Regions from separate parts of the Homo sapiens genome. Here region 2 is reported to be linked to region 1. Evidence: microRNA targets listed by miRTarBase, many of them from high-throughput screens and not tested one by one. Region 1 holds a microRNA gene; the other region holds the end of a gene's coding sequence.

What was found. Region 1 holds the annotated microRNA hsa-miR-4426 (GAAGAUGGACGUACUUU, at 2,937-2,953, opposite strand). A microRNA usually pairs through its seed, bases 2 to 8, with sites in the 3' UTR of a target mRNA and lowers its output. Matches are read on the target gene's strand: a 7mer-m8 pairs with bases 2 to 8, a 7mer-A1 pairs with bases 2 to 7 and ends in A, and an 8mer does both.
Region 2: miRTarBase lists TNPO1 as a target of hsa-miR-4426. The part of its 3' UTR that is shown has no 7-base or 8-base seed match.

What each region holds. Positions count from the first base shown.
Region 1 is chr1:192,714,882-192,719,285 of GRCh38, reverse strand. It overlaps MIR4426 (microRNA 4426), which reads right to left and starts at 2,958; the gene lies at 2,896-2,958. It also overlaps the pseudogene RPS27AP5.
Region 2 is chr5:72,904,960-72,909,287 of GRCh38, reverse strand. It overlaps TNPO1 (transportin 1), which reads right to left. Exons shown (of 25, transcript NM_002270.4): 24 at 3,843-3,985; 25 at 1-579. The coding sequence ends at 3,878. Among named protein-coding and RNA genes, the nearest start is that of MIR4804, 29 kb to the right of the region's middle.

The DNA of each region.
Region 1 (4,404 bases):
ACTACTAAAACCAGAATGCTATAAATAGAATGACATTTTTTCTTTCCAAAGTTGATATGCTAGAGTGTTGCAAAAATAATAATGAAAGCAAGATATTTCGTGGCAAAATTTCAGGGTAAACACTGTTAGCTGCAGGTGCTGCTAGTGAGTATTCTTTGGGCAAATGGGAAAAGGATTAAATGGTTGGTAGAGTTTAGCAGAGAAGCCATCAGGTCCTGGGCTTTTCTTTGCTGAGAGACTTTTTATTATGGCTTCAATCTTGTTTCTTGTTATTGGTCTGTTCAGGTTTGGGATTTATTCATGCTTCAATCCTGGTAGGTTTTATGTGTCTAGGAAATTACACATTTCTTCTAGATTTTTCAACTTATTAGTATATAGTTGCTCATAGTAGGCAGAAATCCTTTGGATTTCTGTGTTATTGGTTTTAATGGCTTCTTTTTAAACTCTGATGTTATTCATTTGGGTCATCTCTTTTTCTTATTCTGGCTAAAGGTTTGTCAATTTTGTTTATCTTATATGAAAACAACTTTTCATTTCATTGATCTTTTGTATTGTTTTCTTTGTATCAATTTCATTTGTTTCTCCTCTGATCTTTAGTATTTATTTTCTTCTACTAATCTTGTCTTTGGTTTTATCTTGCTTTTGTAGTTCTTTAAGATGCATTGTTAGGCTATGTATTTGACGTTTTCCTTCTTTTTTTGCTGTAGGTGCTTATAAACATAAATTTTTCTCTTAGTACTGCTTTTGCTGTATCCTATAGGTTTTAGTATATTGCGTTTCCATTATCATTTGTTTCAAGACATTTTTCAATTTCCTTCTTAATATCTTCATTGACCCACAGATCATTCAGGAGCATATTGTTTAATTTCTGTGTGTTTGTGTAGTTTCCTAAATTTCTCTTGTTATTGATTTGTAGTTTTATTCCATTTGTGGGCAGAGAAGAGGTTTGATATTATTTCAAATTTTTTGAATGCTTTAAGATATTTTTGTGACTTAACATATGGCCTACTCTTGAGAATGACCCATGTGCTGAAGAGAAGAATGTGTATTCTGCAGCTGATGGATGAAATATTTGGTAAATATCAATTAAGCCCATTTGGTCTGTAGTGCAAATTAAGTTCAATATTTCTTTGTTAATTTTCTGTCTGGAAGATTTGTCCAATGCTGAAAGTGAGGTGATGAAGTCACCAGCTGTTATTGTATTGGAGGCTCTCTCTCTTTCTCTGATAATATTTGCTTTATCTATCTGAGTGTTCCAGTGTTGGGTATATATATATTTACAATTGTTATATCCTCTTGCTGAATTGACCCGTTTATCATTATATAATAACTTTCTTTGTCTCTCTTACAGTTTTTTGTCTTGAAATCTCTTTTGTCTGATATAAAGTGTAGTTACTCCTGCTCTTTTTTTGTGTGTGTTTGTTTCTGTTGGCATGGAATATCTATTTCCATCCCTTTATTTGCAGCCTATGTGTGTCTTTGAAGGTGAAGTGTGTTTCTTGTAGGCAACAGATCAGTGGGTCTTAGTTTTTTTGTTTTTTTTTTTTAATTCATTCAGTCACTCTATGTCTTTTGAGAATTTAGTTCATTTACATTCAACATTATTATTGATAAGTAAGGACTTACTCCTGCCATTTTGTTATTTGTTTTCTGGTTGTTTTGTGGTCTTCCCTTTCTTCTTTCTTTCCTTCCTATCTTCCTTTTAGTGAAGGTGATTTTCTCTTGTGGTATGATTTAACTTTTTGCTTTCTATTTTTTGTGTATCTGTTGTATGTTTTTTTTATTTGAGGTTACCATGAGGCTTGCAAATACTATCTTGTGATCCATTACTTTAAACTGATGAGAACTTAACACTGAGTGCAGAGACAAACAAATGCAAAGAAAACTAATAAAAACTCTACATTTTGACTTTGTCCCCACACTTTTAACTTTTTGTTATTTCTATTTATAGTTTATTGTGCTGTTTGTGTTTTGAAAAGTTATTGTATTTATTATTTTTGATCAGTTCATTGTTTAGTCTTTCTACTTAAGATTAGTTTATACACCACAATTACAGTGTTATAATATTCTGTGTACCATTACCAGTGAGTTGTGTACCTTCAGATGATTCTTATTGGTTGTTAACATTTTTTTCCTTCTGATTGAAAAACTTCCTTCAGCATTTTTTTTGTAGAACAGGTCTAGTGTTGACGAAATCCCTCAATTTTTGTTTGGGAAAGTCTTTATTTATCCTTCATATTTGAAGGATATTTTCAATGGATATATTATTTTAGAGTAAAAGTTTTTTTCCTTCAGCACTTTAAATTTTTCATGCAACTCTTCTGGCTCATAAGGTTTCCACTGAAACGTCTGCTGCCAGAATTATTTGAGTTCCATTTTATGTTATTTGTTTATTTTTTCTTGCTGCTTTCAGGATATTTTCTTTATCTTTGACCTTTGGGAGTTTAATTATTAAATGCATTGAGTTAGTCTTCTTTGGGTTAAATCTGCTTGGTGTTCTATAACCTTCCTGTACTTGGATATTTATATCTTTCTCTATGTTTGGGAAGTTCTCTGTTATTATCCCTTTGAATAAACTTTCTTTCTTTTTTTTTTTTTTTTTTTAGTTCATGTCTTTTATTAAGTCATACAGTTACTTGTCTTCTGGTTTGTTGAAACAGTAAGTCAGACAACATTTGCCACAATAATGTCTGTCAAAGTGGCTTGCCATAAACACCCCAGCACCACATTCATCAGAAGGGCACTCTCGATGAAGGCAACTAATTTTGCCATTCTCATCCACCTTATAATATTTCAGGAGAGCCAGCTTAACCTTCTTTCTCTTGTGCTTATTCTTCCTGGGAGTGGTGTAAGACTTCTTCTTCCTTTTCTTAGCACCACCACGAAGTCTCAACACAAGATGAAGAGTAGACTCCTTTTGAATATTGTAGTCAGACAAAGTACGTCCATCTTCCAACTGCTTGCCAGCAAAGATCAGTCTCTGCTGATCAGGAGGAATTCCTTCCTTATCCTGGATCTTGGCCTTTACATTATCTATTGTATCCGAGAGTTCAACCTCGAGGGTGATGGTCTTCCCCATAAGGGTTTTCACGAAAATCTGCATTTTGGTGGCGGCTCCACTGCAGATGGCGGATCGAAAAGCTGAATAAACTTTCTACTCCTATATCTTTCTCTACCTCCTCTTTAAGGCCAATAACTCTTAGATTTGATTTTTCGAGTCTATTTTCTAGATCTTGTAGGTGTACTTCATTGTTTTTTTTTTTTCTTTTGTCTTCTCTGACTGTATTTTCAAATAGCCTGTCTTCAAGCTTACTAATTCTTTCTTCTGCTTCATCAATTCTGCTGTTAGGAGACTCTGATGCATTCTTTAGTATGCCATTTGCATTTTTCAATTCCAGAATTTCTGCTTGATTCTTTTTAATTATTCCAATCCCTTCGTTAAATGTATCTGATAAAATTCTGAATCCCTTTTCTGTGTTATCTTGAATTTCTTTGAGTTTCCTCAAAACAGCTATTTTCAATTCTGTTTGAAAGGTCACATATCTCTGTTTCTCCAAGATTGGTTCCTGGTGCCTTATTTATTTCATTTGATGACATCATGTTTTCCTGGATGGTACTGATGCTTGTGGATGCTCTTCAGTGTCTGGGTACTACTGAAAGGTTAGGCATTTATTGTAGTCTTCGCAGTCTGGGTCTGTTTGTACCCATCCTTCTTGGGAAGGCTTTCCAGGTATTTGAAAGGACTTGGGTGTTGTGATCTATGCCATATCTGTATCAGTGGGTACTCAAAGTCCAGTAATGCTATGGTTCCTGCAGACTCATAGAGGTACCACTTTGTCAGTCTTGGATAGGGTTAGGAAGAATTCTCTGGATTACCAGGCAGACACTCTTGTCCCCATCCATCCCTTGCTTTCTCCTGAAGAAACAAGGTCTCTCTCTCTCTCTCTCTGTTATGAGCCACCTGGAGCTGGGGTTGAAATGACACAAGCAACCCTGTGGCTACCACCACTGGGACTGTACTGGGTCATACCTAAAGCCAGCACAGCACTGTGTCTCACCTAAAGCCTGACATAACCACTCCCTGGCTACTGCCTATGTTTGCTGAAGGCCCTAAACCTCTACAATCAGCAGGTGGTGAAGTCAGCCAGGCTCATGTCCTTCCCTTCAGGGTGGTGAGTTCTCCCAAGCTTCAGGTGGGTCCAGAGATGCCATATAGAAGCCAAGGACTAGAGTCAAAAACCTAAGAAATCTACCTGCTTCTTTATTCTACCAAATAAGATGAAGTTCTTCCCACTCTTTCCTCTCCTTTCCATAAGCAGAGGAGCCTCTTGCTGTGGTCACCACCATGACGGAACAATGGTAGGTATTACTAGGCTATCACCAATGTGCACTTAAGGTCCAAGT
Region 2 (4,328 bases), not on the chromosome of region 1:
GGTACCTTAAATTGTAACTTCCAAGAACCTGCTTCTACTACGGGAAGGCAAGCTGACTTTTAACTATATTAGTTTTCTTTGTGTAGTTCTTCATCAACATGCAAAACAAGGCCCCATCATGTGGGAAAACTTACATAAAAAAACTTTAAATTAAAAAAAAAAAAAAAGCTTCTTTACTATTTGTAACTCCCATTCTTAGGTTTCCTTTATTGTGCGCTATAGAATTGTTCCTCTTTCTTGTCCCTAGGCATCATTTATATGGTTCTTGTTTTGGTACAATTCCCCATAATATTCCACAATGTACTGTTTTGTGAGTAGACTGAATAGATTTTTTTTTTTTTGCTTCTTCACATCCACTGCGGAGTTGTAACTGGAGACATATTTCCACCCACAAAGGCTCCAGATGTTAAAACGTTTCCCAACATCGACTTAATACAGTGACGGCAACACCTCCCTCCCGCCCCTCCCAGTAGGGTTGGGATTGTACTGTATTCCCTACTGGTTTACCCTTCCCCCCTGTAAAGGGTAACATTTTCCCTGGGTGCAGAGGCTCCCTTATAGTCTCCAAGACTGAAGGACCTATAAGAAAAAGAACAAAAACAATTTTATCTTTAACAATCGTTTGTCTTTCAAAGCCAGTGGAACAAAAAATTAATCAAATAAGAATGCTATCTTTACCTATAAAGAAAATGAGAAATTTGGACAAATTGCCTAATATCGTGTTAGTCACTTATAACCATGCTGCTTCCTTCTCCTATGGCACTGAATTGTTTGCTGCATCAGGTATGAAAAGTGAGGTCAAGCTGGGTAGGAGAGTTGTATAGACAGGTGTACAACACTTTGTATAGTGAAATATGCCTCGTATGATGCTATCAGTCTAATTCTTTATCCCCTTTTGCAAAATGGGACCCAATGGGAACTTGTTATTTCTTATATAACAAGTGGCCTTACTTTCTTAAAAATAAAGTAGCACTTTCTTTAGGACAATCCTTAGAATGAAAACACCATCTTTTTTTCCCCCAGTATTCCCAATATTAAGCAAACAGAAATCCAACCTATCAAAACACAAAAGAGCATTTGTTATTTGGGGTTGTCTGGTATTTTAAGCCTAGAAGGCACTAGAAGTGTTCATTACCACAGCAGGGTCACTACATTCAGTAAGTATCAACAAACAAATTCTACATAAAAAAAGAGAGAGAGAAAAAAGCAAATTTAACATTTATTTATTTATTTTGGAGATAGCACCTTGCTCTGTCACCCAGGCTGGAACGCAGTGGTGTGAATATGGCTCACTGAAGCCCCAACCTCCTGGGCTCAAGCAATCCTCCTGCCCAGTCTCCTGAGTAGCTGGGACCATAGGTACATACCACCATGCCCAGCTCATTTTTTTCTTTTTAATTTTTTTCATAGAGATGGAGATCTCATCATGTTGCCCAGGCAGGTCTCAAACTCCTGGGCTCAAGCAATGCTCCCACCTCAGCCTCCCAAAATGCTAGGATTATAGATGTGGGCCATCACACCCTGCCTACACTTGCCTTCTTGATGTTCCTAATTAGTTCCCATTCTGATCCTATTTCACTTGGTCATTTCCACTATCTTCCAGTCACTTGGTTTTTCTGGTAGGAACTTTTTTCTATGCTAAACAGTTTTAATGATAAAAAGGATATTAAGAAATAAGGTAAGATTACTGGGAGATTTAAACTGTTACCTGATAGTGGTCCTTTTACAAACAGAACTCTACTACCCAATCATGCCAAGTTTTGGCCATTTATGAACGTTCATGTGAATTCACAGAGGGCAGTTAATCCATCTGTGTAGAAATATAAGCAATCCCTTTTCTCCTGCCTCTGAAGAAAAGGAAGAGGAGTACAAAAAGGCAGGAATAAAAGATACTGATCTACTTTTAGCTCTAATTACAAAACCGAGAACTATTTCATACCTTGTCTTAGAACAGTTAATTCATGATTGGTGATGAGACCACAGAGGTAATAAATCTGAAAGTGCTCAAGACTTGTTAGTAGCTCATTGAAGCTTTGAAGCTACAAGTCATTCTCATCTTTTGCATTCTCATAATTTAACATAAGGTGAATCCAGCACTTTTCCAAAATGCCAAAGCCATTTTGGAAAACAGCTCTTGAGGACTCAAGACTGAAGTAGGACAACACATATGAAGGGCTCTGACACATTCTGGAAGCTTTGAGTCCATTTCTACTACCTTCTAGGTTAGACAGCTTGGATGGTGAAATCTTTCCAGATTTAAATTTTAGCTTGGAGTAAACAAGCAAGCAAGCAAGCCAAAAAAACTCCTCCAATTCAATCTAAAGTGTAATTCAACTTGGTGTACATCTTCTGTACATGCTCATTCAGCACATCTTCTGGCTTCCAGTCAGATATGTCTTAATTCATGTTGAAAATCTAAAGATGAATGTCAAAACCCTGATATTTATTGTACTGGCCCAGTTCCTAACCTTTACTGAGTCAACTTAGTGTGCCAGGCAACATACTAAGTTCTGGCATCACATACAGTATAGTATTTAATCCTCAACATAACTCAATGACAAAACCGAAGCTCAGAGATGAGAACTGCTAGTCCCATTTAAGTACAGAAGAGCTCAAGGAGCAAGAGTCCAAATGAATATAGTCCATCCCAAATTAAAACAGAATCTTTCATTGCTTATTTTAAAATATAGTCCTAGGCACTGGGCTCAGTGGCTTACGCCTGTAAATCCCAGCACTTTGGGAGGCCGAGGTGGGTGCATCACAAGGTCAGGAGTTCGAGACCAGCCCGGCCAACATGGTGAAACCCCATCTCTACTAAAAATACAAAAATTAGCCAGGCATGGTGGCATGTGCCTGTAATGCCAGCTACTTGGGAGGCTCGGGCAGGAGAATTGCTTGAACCCAAGAGGCGGAGATTACAGTGAACTCAGATTGCGCCACTGCACTCCAGCCTGGGCGAAAGAGTCTCTGTCTCAAAAAAAAAAAAAAAAAAAAAAAAAAAAAAAAAAAAAAGAAAAAAAAAAGTGATGGGCACATGGTAGGTACTCAGTGAAACATACAGTGAAAAACAAAAACAGTGGGCCAAAACCCAACTGAGTTTTCTTTCAAAGCACGTGAAATGAAAAGTCCTTGTTACAGCAGAGACTATAAATTCATGCTCCAAAATGAAATCAATTTTACCCCATCACTATGAGTGCCGATGTCTTCTTGCAGGAAAAAAGAAAGAAAAAAGGAATAGTTGAAGCAATGTTGAGAAATCCAACCAGTGTACCAACGTGGATTTCTTTATACCTACGATTCAAACTGGAGCTAATCGTTTTTCTGGGCTTGTTGGTTCTATTAAGAAAATTTCTTTAGCCTTCACTTGAGTAATTTTATTTTCTATTTATTTGAGATGGAGTCTTGCTCTGTCCCCTAGGCTGGAGTGCACTGGCAAGATCTTGGCTCACTGCAACCCCCATCTCCCAGGTTCAAACAATATTCCCACCTCAGCCTCCTGAGTAGCAGGGACTACAAAAGCACGTCCCACCACACGTGGCTAATTTTTGTATTTTTAGTAGAGATGGGTTTTCACCATGTTGGCCAGGCTGGTTTCAAACTCCTGACCTCAAATGACCTGCCCACCTTGGCCTCCCCAAGTGCTGGGATTACAGACATGAGCCACCACACCTGGCCCACTTAAGTAATTTTAAATTTAAAGCCCAAGATAGAATGATATGAGGCTATGTTTTATTCAACCTCTATAGAAAACAAATAGCTTTTTATTCTATTTAGTAGTTTGAAATGACAGCCCTAACAAAATTTTCTTCATCCTGAAAATTTCCAAACTTCTTATAACTTACCCCTAATTTTGGGACTGCAGCTTAAGTGTATTAGATTAAACACCATAAAAAGCTGCAAGACGCTCTTTTAAGGGAAGAGGAAACTGGTCAGAGAAACGCCTCCAATTTTCATCGCCAACTTGATTTTTAAATCCATGAAGGATCTGTAAGAGTGAAAAACCATTAATTTATCAATAACAAGAGAAAAATTCAGATCAGCATAGCTTCTGAAATCCAACACAGCTGATTTTTTTATAAATTTTATCCATTTTAAAGTAGCAATTCTCAAACTTCGTAGGATTCTACACCATTCCCTGCTAATATGGTCTGGCTCTGTGTCCCCACCCAAATCTCATCTTGAATTGTACTCCCATAATTCCCACGTGTTGTGGGAGGGACCCAGTGGGAGATAACTGAATCATAGGGGTAGTTTTTCCTATACTCTTCTGGTGGTAGTGAATAAGTCTCATGAGATCTGACGGTTTGATAAGGGGAAACCCGTTTCAC